Regions from separate parts of the Homo sapiens genome. Here region 1 is linked to region 2. Evidence: fine-mapped expression QTL. A gene starts in region 2. The other region holds a variant in brackets. All regions are shown on one strand. Distances are between the middles of the regions.

Evidence for each region. PIP is the estimated chance that this variant, and not a neighbour inherited with it, causes the effect.
Region 1: its variant is the best candidate, but not a certain one, in a credible set for the expression of LINC02009 in whole blood (GTEx, PIP 0.74).

The regions. Positions count from the first base shown.
Region 1 is chr3:46,395,494-46,400,873 of GRCh38, reverse strand. The region is part of intron 1 of CCR5AS (CCR5 antisense RNA); the gene reads left to right. Among named protein-coding and RNA genes, the nearest start is that of CCR5AS, 8.9 kb to the left of the region's middle. The variant GT/T (reference allele first, on the strand shown) is at 2,668.
Region 2 is chr3:46,421,431-46,426,810 of GRCh38, reverse strand. It overlaps LINC02009 (long intergenic non-protein coding RNA 2009), which reads left to right and starts at 3,144. Exons shown (of 5, transcript NR_151704.1): 1 at 3,144-3,266; 2 at 4,013-4,126; 3 at 5,319-5,380.

The DNA of each region.
Region 1 (5,380 bases), 26 kb after region 2:
CCTTCTAGATATAAAGGAGACTGCTGTGGGCTCCACTTCTCCAACTACATTGCTCTCTGCTCCACCTCACTGCTATCATCCACTGACTGCCTGGTTGCCCCTATTTTATTCAAGACTTGTGCACATGGATAAGGGGCTTCTATTCACCCCAGTTTCCCACATCATCCTGGTGGCTTAGTTGTCCATGTGGACCCCCATCTGGTGCCCAAGTCTCAGCTCATTAACTCAACTCCCTGGCCTTCGGTTTCACTCCACTAGTGCCCAGCTGAGGTTTGTTAACATTGATTTACCACTGAATTCTCACAATAAAATTTCTCACTTTTCTGATGACAACTTTTACTCCTTTGGTTTCTCTCACTCCATTTATTCTTTGTGTAATATGTGTTGTTCATCAAGCCTTCCAGCCTCTGACTATCAGCCCCTCCCACGATCACATCCCTCTTTATCTAGCTGAGATCCAGTAGTCTGCCACTTAGTCATTCTCTTGTCAACACCCTGACCTCTCTTGAAGCCCCAGCCTTAGATAAATTATCCTCTACATTTTTTCTTTGAGTGTGTGTTTCCGAGAACAGCTGTTTAAAACCACTTAGCAGCCGGGCTCAAGCTTGTAATCCCAGCACTTTGGGAGGCCGAGGTGGGCAGATTACTTGAGCCCAGGAGTTCAAGACCAGCTTGGGCAACATGGCGAGACCCTGTCTCTACAAATGTACAAAATATAGCTGGGAGTGGTGGTGTGTGTCTGTAGTCCCAGGCCCGGGAGGCTGGGGTGGGAGGATTGCTTGAGCCCGGGAGGCAGAGATTGCATTGAGCTGTGATTGTGCTACTACTACTACACTCCAGCCTGTGTGACAGAGTGAGACCCTGTTTCAAAAAAATAAAAATAAGTAAAACCGCTTAGCTATGTGGACAAGATACATTGGTAATTTAAGATCTTCAACTAGCTTCCAGAGATTCTTCTAGATTCCCTGATAGCTGTTCTGAGTGTGACAAATTGTCACTTTATCCAATTTTTCCATCAACTATTTCAAGCTACCTAAAGCTTCCAGTCTCTTCACCCCCGTTCTAATGACTCCCATTTACTCTCAGGAAATGATCTCATCTTCTGCTTTTCTCAGAACTCCTCAACTCCTCAGGCCCCAACTTCAAATGCAACTGTGGTATGTCTACATTTTTCCTCTCTCCATGGACAGAGTTGCTCCTCTAACACCAAAGGCTAATCTCTCCCCCTGCACTCTGGATCTCATTCCGTTTAACCTTCATCATTTTTTCCCACATTTTCTTTGAGTCCCAACTTTTTCCTCTCTATTAGATTATTCAGAATTTTTAAATGCTCAGATCTGTCCCTTAAATAAAGATTACAAACCCACTTTGACCTCAAACATTGGTCAGACCATTTACTGTCTCTTCTCCCCCTCTTCCAGGCAGTTTCACTAGTTGTCCAAACTCTGTTTCTACTTCATCACTGCTCATTCCCTACTCTACACCCTGCAGCCTGGCTTCTGCCCCCACCATTCCACTGAGATTGGTCTCCCTGGGTTCACCCACACATCCTTGTTTAAATGTAATCAGCTGCTGGGGCAGCTAATGCATCAAGTGCCCATGAACAGGAAGTGTCCAGGATCTCCCGGCTCTCCATTACTACAGACAATAACAACAACAAGACGCAGACATCAGTCCAGCCCACAAACACCATTACATTTAGAGATTCCCAAGCTGAAGTGGTGCTTAAGATTTTTTGACACCTGTTAAAATGTTATAGAATCTAAAAACATTAATACAGGACTTTGCAGTGAAGATGACAGTGTAGTGTAGATGAAGATGAGTAAAGCAGGATAGCAGACTCTTCCCTCCTCTAATATCTCAATGACCAAAAACTAGTTTTAAAACTATAACATCTGCTGGCAGCAACTGAACAAGAAATAGGGCACAATCTTACATCAAAACGTTGAAACATGGTGCTTTAGAGATATGCCTAAACCCAATCCTACTGGGTTTCCCAATCCTATGGAATAAAGAAGGAAAATAAAGAAATCCTGAGAATTGTCTAATACTCTCCAATCAGGAGACAAGTGGCCTTGGGGGGTGAATATGCATTCCTAGAAAGAAAAGAAAAATATTTCTTCAGTTTGACTTGAAAAAATGGAAAAAATTAAAAAAGAAAAAAAGACAAGAAAAAAGAATTTAAAAAACCCTATTGAGTTAAAGCTCCTACATTACAGAGGGTAGAAGGGTTTCTAGGACTTTTCATAGACCAGGACAATGTGCTGAGTTAGGACAATAAGACAAATTCCAAAAGAGTAAGACACCCTTGTATATACCGAATTGGCTCTGGTATAAAATTTGTTGCTTTTTTTGGATTTTGATTTTTTATAAAAACAATTTTAATAAAGTAATGATTTCATCAAATCTTTAAGGGTTATACTAGTGCGTGGAGCTTCTTAGAGGTATACAGAGGTTTATTAGCTCTGCCAGCTATCACTCAAGGTGATCCATTTCCTTGTGTGCCTTGCAGTTTCAATGTGAGTGTGTCTTGACTGGGGATTATTTTCTCTGCAGTAGCTTTTCATGGCTTGAAGTGGGAGCACTCCTTTCCAGAGGAGTTTTGAGTTTGTTTCAGCCGGGAACATTGAGGGCATCAATGGCCTGATATGAATTTTCCGCGCCTGG[GT/T]TTTGGGGTCTTCCATTTTGAGGGTATTATAAACCTGTGCATGAAGCACAGGATTTGTAGTCTCAGAGATTTTTCCCATACCACTTAAAGCCTAGGCAAAAATAGATAAGTGTTTGTGTTTTCCTCTGCCTGTGGGTGAATTTCTTCTAGTCCCCCTTTTCCCAAGTGCTAGATTTACATCAGGATCTCTCAGTTCCGGCTCCACATACCCCATAGGCTTCAGCCTTGCTGTCTGCCCCGTGTCGGAGTTACACGGACATGGCCTTTTTGATGCATGTGGGCTTTGATTTGTCTGCACCAGACAGTGACCGAAATGATCTCTTTCCATTGAGTAGCGTTTCAATGACCGTTTGTTGTAAAATGTGGTTCCTTTATTCATCTCATAGATATTTAGTGCCCACTGTCTTATAAATCTTCCTTTTGCCCTTCCATATCCATTCTCCACTCTCTACCCAGCTTTATTCTGGGGGATGCTCACCTTATTAACAGCAGGCTCCCCTGTCTTTCAGTTTTCAGTTGTGTTTGGCTGATGGGGAATTTTAGGCAGAAGATTGGAGAGCAAGGTCAGGGGAGTCAGGCCCTGGCTCCCTCCTGATGGGGTCTAGTGGGCTGATGTGTCCCTTGACGTAAGGGCAGCTCTTGTCAGGCAGCTCCCTCCCCTTGCCCTGTCTGGCCTTGCAGTGGGAATAGTGCCCTGCTCTCACTGGCACCAGGCACTGCACTGTGTATTGTGGCCTCCCTATACCTTGTCCAAATTTTTGTATAGAATCCTTCATTAAACTCACCTCAGTTGCCCTACTTAAGTGTGCCGTTTGGCTTCTGCCAAGCTCCTGAAGGACACCTCTCCCAAGTCCCAGGAACTTTGCCAGACCCTGGGGAGAAAATAGTGAACAAAGTGGAACCGTCCTCTGTCCTCGTGGCACTGGCATTCTAGAGGGAGATTCAGGTACGGAACTGACTATAATTCAGGGAGTCATGTGCCAAGCTGGGGGAGCACACAGGAGCAGTGGGAGCTGTCCCAAGAGCACCCGGCCTGGCTCACGAGAGGCAGGGGAAGGATTCCCAGGGTAGGTGTTACCTCAGTCAAGGGCGCATGGATGGGAGCCGGCCAGGTGAGGTGTGGGCCTCTTGCCCCCACTCCTCCTTTCCTCCTAATGTCTGCTTTTCAGGTTCTTGAGGGACCACCTACTTGTCAGAGATGGGGCAAGAAAAGAGAGAGTGATAGAATTCAAGGTGGTGACATTTTATTATTTATTAGCACCTGTGACTGAGTCTTAGTGAAAGAGAAAATTGAAACCAAATGCCAGACTATTTTAGGCTGGATTCCTGGGAATCCAGGGCTCAGGCTCTCTGAGAAGGAGAGTTGTATGCAGCAGACTTGTGGGGAGGGCTTCCAGGAGACACAATTGGAAAGGAGAGAACAAGACAGGACCAGGCAGAGGGAGAAGCTGCCCACGTGGTCACAGAGGAGGCCTCAGTTATTCCTACAAGGAATTAGGAATTGAGGGGAGGGCGCTAGGCCTCTGCAATCCAACATTAGCCAGTCATTGGCTCAGCCATCCCTGGGAAGGGGGCATTGCCTGGGCAGGCAGCTCCAGTTCCCAGAAAGGGGAGTAGATCTGAGTTCCAGCACCTCTGTTCCCATCTATGGGAGTGGGAGCATGGAGAGATGCATTGGCTTGAAAAGGGCATCTGGGCAGAGTCTCACAGTATCCACTGTACAGGTGGAAGGTTCTGAATTTCCTGCAAATTTCATTTACTCTGAATGATAGAAAATGGAAACAGAAATTTCTAAAGCCACAATGTCACAAGACCGTGGAACCCACATGTGGGCACACTGAAGGAGGAAGTCACGTGCACAGGAGGCCACACTGCCCACTCACTCCCTTAAACTATGCTGCTGGGGACTCATCCATCATCATTGGAGTGTGAAGTGCCCAGTTTTCACAGGGTCAGTCGAGTTGGGCAGACACTGGTCTGATATGAATCATCTTAAATAGATAAGAAACGTTTCTTTTATGAATAGAGGTAAAAATTAATACACAAAGTAGCATCCTCATTTAAAAAATATTCCCTTTAGTAAAATTAAATGACACATTGTAACTGTGCAGGAAAGGGTTTGGTCCTGGTCTTCAGTCTGGGTGGTGAGGCCCCTAAGCTGGGGACTGTGAAGGCCCTGCTTCTTCCTGCTCACGTCTCCCCCAAGGACAGTCCCAGAGTCTCCACAGAGGCTCCAGAGCCTCTTCCTTCCCAGGACCCACAACCTCCTAGCACTTGACTGGAGCCAGCTCCTACATCTGCACAGAGTCCACGGTTCCCATCTCAGCCACACCTTCTGGAAAGGGTCTTGGAAAGGGCCCCTTCCCTATCTGGTAAACCAGGACCTTCAACTTCAGAGGCTGGTCCTGTCCTCTCAGGAGAGCCCAGGGCTTGGGGGCAGAACCAGGACCTTCAACTTCAGAGGCTGGTCCTGTCCTCTCAGGAGAGCCCAGGGCTTGGGGGCAGAAGTTGTGCTTTTCTAGGCGGAAGGAGGGAACATTACTTTGTATTCCTTTGCCATGAGTGGGCAGAGGAGGAGACCAGGCAGGAGTTACAAAGTCTTTCTGCATTCCGATTGCATCACAGGGTTCCATGGATGTTTTTTCCACTCTTACCTTACTCTATGTCTCTGCAACATTTGACGTTGCTGACACTTCCTCTTACTCCCACAGC
Region 2 (5,380 bases):
AAAGAGATAGCAGGAAGAGGGGCATGGAAGAAGGGGTCAGCTGCTGGGTCCAGAGTAGGCTTGCAAGACTGCATTCTCCAGATGTCCCAGTAGATAACCTCAAGGAGCTCGGTGCCAGGAAGTGATTGCCCTCAGCAAACCTTCTGGCAGTGGGAGCAGTCGTGAGTTTGCCCACATCCTGCATTCATGATAAATAGCTTGCTATTTGATCATAAAGCCTCCAGTGGAATGCTGAGTTGGTTACGTCCCACAGGCCTTTGGCTCCCTATTTACCCCTTCCAGGTTATTAGCCATGACTTTCCCTCTTTGTTTCTCTTTTCTATACTTTCCATGCATTCTACAGAATAAAGTATCCTGGGGCTTTAAAGTAATCTAATTCCTACTGAATCCAAAATAATCTGATTTAATCCTTGAATTTTCAAACAATTTCAATGAATTTCGTTTTTCACCAGGGTTTGGACCTCCCCCATAATAAAATCCCTTATTTCTTTTTGCCACTTCAGTCATAAAATCCAACCTACCATTTTCCATTGAAAGCTGAGTCTTTCTTATTTACATAAAAATTGTTGGATGTATCTATGGACAAACCAGGGGAAATTAAGTGTGTGGTGGGGAAGTGTTAAGAGGGCCTCAGAGTGGCTGCCGACCAGCTCCATGCATCCCTAGGTGAGTCCCCATCCATTCTCTCCCTCATTCTTAATGTGTTTCCAAACAGGTGAGGAACAATGAAAACCAAGTCGGACATTCTAGTGCTAATTATATAGAGAGAATTTATGTAAAATGTGATAAATGCAAAATATTTCATCAGAAGGAGTATTAATGTTAAATAACCTCAACTCACTAGTAATTAGGCAATCATTTTCATTGATTAGCACAATTTAAAATTCAAGTTGCTAATGATATTCAGTATTGTGAGGATGTAATGAAACAGATAGTCTTATTCAGTATCGGCAGGACCGTATTATTATACATACCCTTAGAAGGACAGTTTAGCAACATCTCTCAACATTTTAGGTGAGAAATTTATCTGCAGCTGGTGCCTCGGTGCTGATGCTGGGGGATACTGGTGAGCATGGCGCAGCATTGGATGGGGGGCTCCAGGCTTCAGGCTCCATGCTTCAGACTGCAGGACCTGGAGCTGCTTCCTGCATCACAGCAGGGCTGCTACAGTGTGCTCTGGTGCAGAACTGGCAGGGGTGCCTGCAGGCCTCTTCCCCAGCATGTGTGTTCACTTTTTTTTTTTTTTTGAGGCAGGATCTCACTCTGTTGCCCAGGATGGAGTGCACCGGAGCGATCACAGTTCACTGCAGGTTCAACTTCCCCGGTTCAGGTGATCCTCCCACCTCAGCCTCCTGATAGCTGGGACTATAGGTGCAGGTCATGCGGTGTCTCATGCCTGTAATCCCAGCACCTTGGGAAGCTGAGGTGGGTGGATTACTTGAGTCCAGGAATTTGAGAGCAGCGTGGGCAACATGGCAAAACTCCATGTCTACAAAAAATACAAAATAATTAGCCATGCATTCACTTCTGAGGGAAAAGTCATGGACTTTGTGGTGCTGTGAACCCCATGTCACTCATACCAGAAAGAACATTGTGTGCTTTGGGGTCTTGGGAAAGCTGACTGACCACCTGAGGTGATGCATACTTATTTTTTTATTTATTTTTATTTTACTATTATTATTTTTTGAGACAGAATCTCACTCTGTTGCCCAGGATGGAATGCAGTGGTGCGACCTCGGCTCACTGCAACCTCCGCCTCCTGGGTTCAAGCGATTCTCCTGCCTCAGTCTCTCCAGTAGCTGGGATTACAGGTGCCTGCCACCATGCCGAGCTTAATATTTGTAGTTTTAGTAGAGACGGGGTTTCACCATGACTGCCAGGCTGGTCTTAAACTCCTGACCTCAAGTGATCCACCTGTCTCCACCTCCCAAAATGCTGGAATTATAGGCTTGAGCCACTGCGCCCAGCCAATGCATACATTTTTCCTCAGGAGATTAGCTTTTACCAGCAAAGGGCGTTCAGAATCAGTTAGCTGACCATTGTTTTCTGAAGTAATCACAGGCCAGTCCCTAGTGGGAGAAAGAAGTGGCCTCTGTAGCAGGACACCTGGAGCTCAGCCCCAGCTCTGCTGTGTGGCTGTGTGACCTTGGGTAAGTCCCTTAACTTTGCTGGGCTCAGCTTTCTTTGTAGGCAAAATCAGGGGCTTGAGCTTGTTCTCTCTACAGCTCTCCTACAGATTGAGTCTGTCTGCAATCACAAGGAGCAGGAGAGGAAGAGACTTAAAATGTGTTATTGTGGTCAGCAGCTATGGGCTGAATGTTTATGTCCCCTCCCAGCCATTCTACTCTTTAGCTTAGAGCTATTCTCCACATGGGACCCAGTGGGTCCATGAGGTCAAACTATTTTAATGATGATACTCAGAAGTTATTTATCTCTCTCCTTATTTTACGAGTAGAATTTTCCAAAGGTTATTTGGCATTTGACAGTCTAACAGATTGGATGGAGAACAAGACAGAGAATCCAGCTTCTGGCCAGAAGTGGTGGCTCACACCTGTAATCTCAGCACTTTGGGAGACCGAGGCAGGAGGATCACTTGAGCTTAGGAGCTCGAGACCACCCTGGCCAGCATGGCAAGATCCCATCTCTACCAAAAAATATAGAAATTAGCTCGCATGGTGATGTGCGCCTGTGGTCTCAGCTACTTGGGAGGCTGAGGTGGGACGATTCCAAGGATCACTGTTGTTGCTAATTTTTTTTCTTTTAAAAAATACAGATATTTTTAATAAAAGTATGTTAATTATGTTAACCTGTAATGGGCTTATTATTTCAAAATCAATTAACAATGTAAATATTTAAAACTTCTGTGTTAAAATTTCTAATAGTATAAATAGCAGTAGATTTAGCCCACTCTAAGGGAGATGGTTGTGCTTTAGTCAGGAGTAGGCCGAGGCAGCCTTCTGGTGCAGCATGACTCAGTGGGTTTGGAGGCAGGCACACAACTCCACACATTATGTAACCATGCCATGTGAGGTGCATTAGGTGACCACTCATATGAGCACGTGCTTGGCTCAAAGCCACTATTGTCTGTAAAAGGTAAAATTACCCTGCTGACACTACATATGGCTTGCACCCAGAGAGAGAATAAAGCCATGTCGAAACCGCCTACTCGAGTGTTTTTCCAGTTACCTGCCACCCACCCACCAACTCCCCTTGGACTTTAGTTTGGGCTAGAACCTGACAATTGGCATCACGAACAGGATCCTAAGGTAAGTGAGCCTTCGGTCCCTGCTGATTCCAGGTTGGCCATGTGACCACAACATGGGTTGTGGTACCCGGTGGTAGCCGTGCTGTGAGGGTGGGCCTGAGTGGAAACCTGGGTGGCAGTAGATGGGTCCCCCATGAGCATGGAGAAGGCGCTGAAGCAGCTGGAAGTGCAGAGCACCAAGAAGGAGAGAGCCTTTGCTGGCAGAGTTGGATGGGCATTTTTAACTGTGCTAAGAAAAGTACACACCCAGTCCCTGAGGGATGCAGACTGGAGGTCTGGCTACACCGATCTGGAAAATAATTAGAGGCTGCCATGAATGGGGACCTCCAGGTGCAGGCAGGATGCCTGGAGGTGTGGCTTCAGAGCTTGGAAAAGGAATTAGAGGCTACCATGAATGCAGGCCTGGGTCCATCATCTTGTCTGGAGATCCCCACTCAGTTTCATACCAAGGAGGAAGAACCCCTGTTGCGGGCTCACCCGGTGGTCTGACAGAAGGTAGATCATGAACAGCCACTGGGGCTCCAAGGGTGGACTCAGGGACTCCCCACCATAATGCAACACATTTCGTATATTGCCTGTACCCCAACTGAGTTGCAGGAATTAGGCAAGCAGTGTTGCCAGTGTCCAGGGGAACCCCTGCCTGCCTGGATGCTTCGTCTGTGGAACAAGGGAGCAGATGGTATCTCCCATTCCACCTCTGAGATGGACAAGCTGGCCTCCACCATGACTCACCCCTCTCTCTGTCAGCGGCTGCAAGTGAGCAGGTGGTTAGTGGCAGCGCAAGGAGACCACACCCTGACTGAGTGGCTACAGGCAGCCATATGAACTGTGTGGAATAATGCTGGTGAAATGCCCAAAACTGTGAGTAAATGGCAGTCATATGCCAATTTGGTGTAAGTCATTCGGGAGATGGGTATGCGGCAGGCTATGTTTGTCCTGAATACCTGAGGGCCAGATGATAAATGTTTCACCTCCCACATGAGGGATCTCATGTTGGGTTTGATGCTCCTGAGCCCCTTTGGCTCCCTAGCTGCTGTCCTCACCCCATACGTAGGGCACCGCATACATGAAGTAACCACTGCCATGGCGGCTCTCAGGGAAGCAGAAGGCCTTCAGGGGGATTGGAGGGTCCACACCATAAAGAAGGGGAAGTTACCCCACCCACAGGGGGCTCCCCCATAAAAAAAGGGGGCCCCAACGAGTGACACGCTCACAGATGTGGATAGATTTGATTTTGGCTGGGGTTGACTGAGAGAAAATTGATAAGCAGCCCAATGAAATACTCCTAACTTTGCGGAGACAGTTGTATGCAGGGCAGCAATTCCGGAAAATGCCCAAAGGGGAGAAAGGCATTGCTGTGTGACCTGGTCCTACCCAGCTCAGAGACTACTTGCTGCAGCCAGGTGGAAATGTAGAGCCTTTTCTGTTCAACTAGGGAACTGGCCAAAGGTGTCTGGCTTGGGGGGACACCAGATGACCAGAGGCCACATGTGGAATTGGCAATCCACTGGTCCCCCACCAATGTACAGTGGGTGCTGGTGCTGGTAGATACTGGCATAGATTGTAGCCTTGTTTATGGGAACCCAGTTAAGTTTTTGGGCAAATCTGCATATATTAAAGGTTACGGAGGCCAGTCAGTGAAAGTGAAACCTGTATCTCTGTACCTTGGCATTGGCCACTTGGCTCCTTGCTTATACACTGTGTATGTCTCTCCCATACCTGAATACATTCTGGAGGTGGATATTTTACATGGCTTGGAAGCTGTGCCATCTATCATGGATTTGATGAACCACTCGACAATGGAATTAGGACAGTACCACTATGTGGTGGACTTGGCCAATGCATTCTTCTCAGTTGACCTTGCTCTAGAGAGCCAGGAACAGTTTGCCTTGATGACAATGGACTTTCACAGTGTTGCTGCAGGGCTATGTGCATAGCTCCACCATATGTCATGGTCTTGTTGCCATGGATTTAACAGCCTGAAAATGTCCAAAGGGAGTCCACTTGTTCCATTACGTTGATGATATTATGTTAACCTCTGATTCTCTTGCAGATTTAGAAGCAGTGGCACCCCTCTTGTGGCAACATTTGGCAGCATGCAGTTGGGCCATCAAC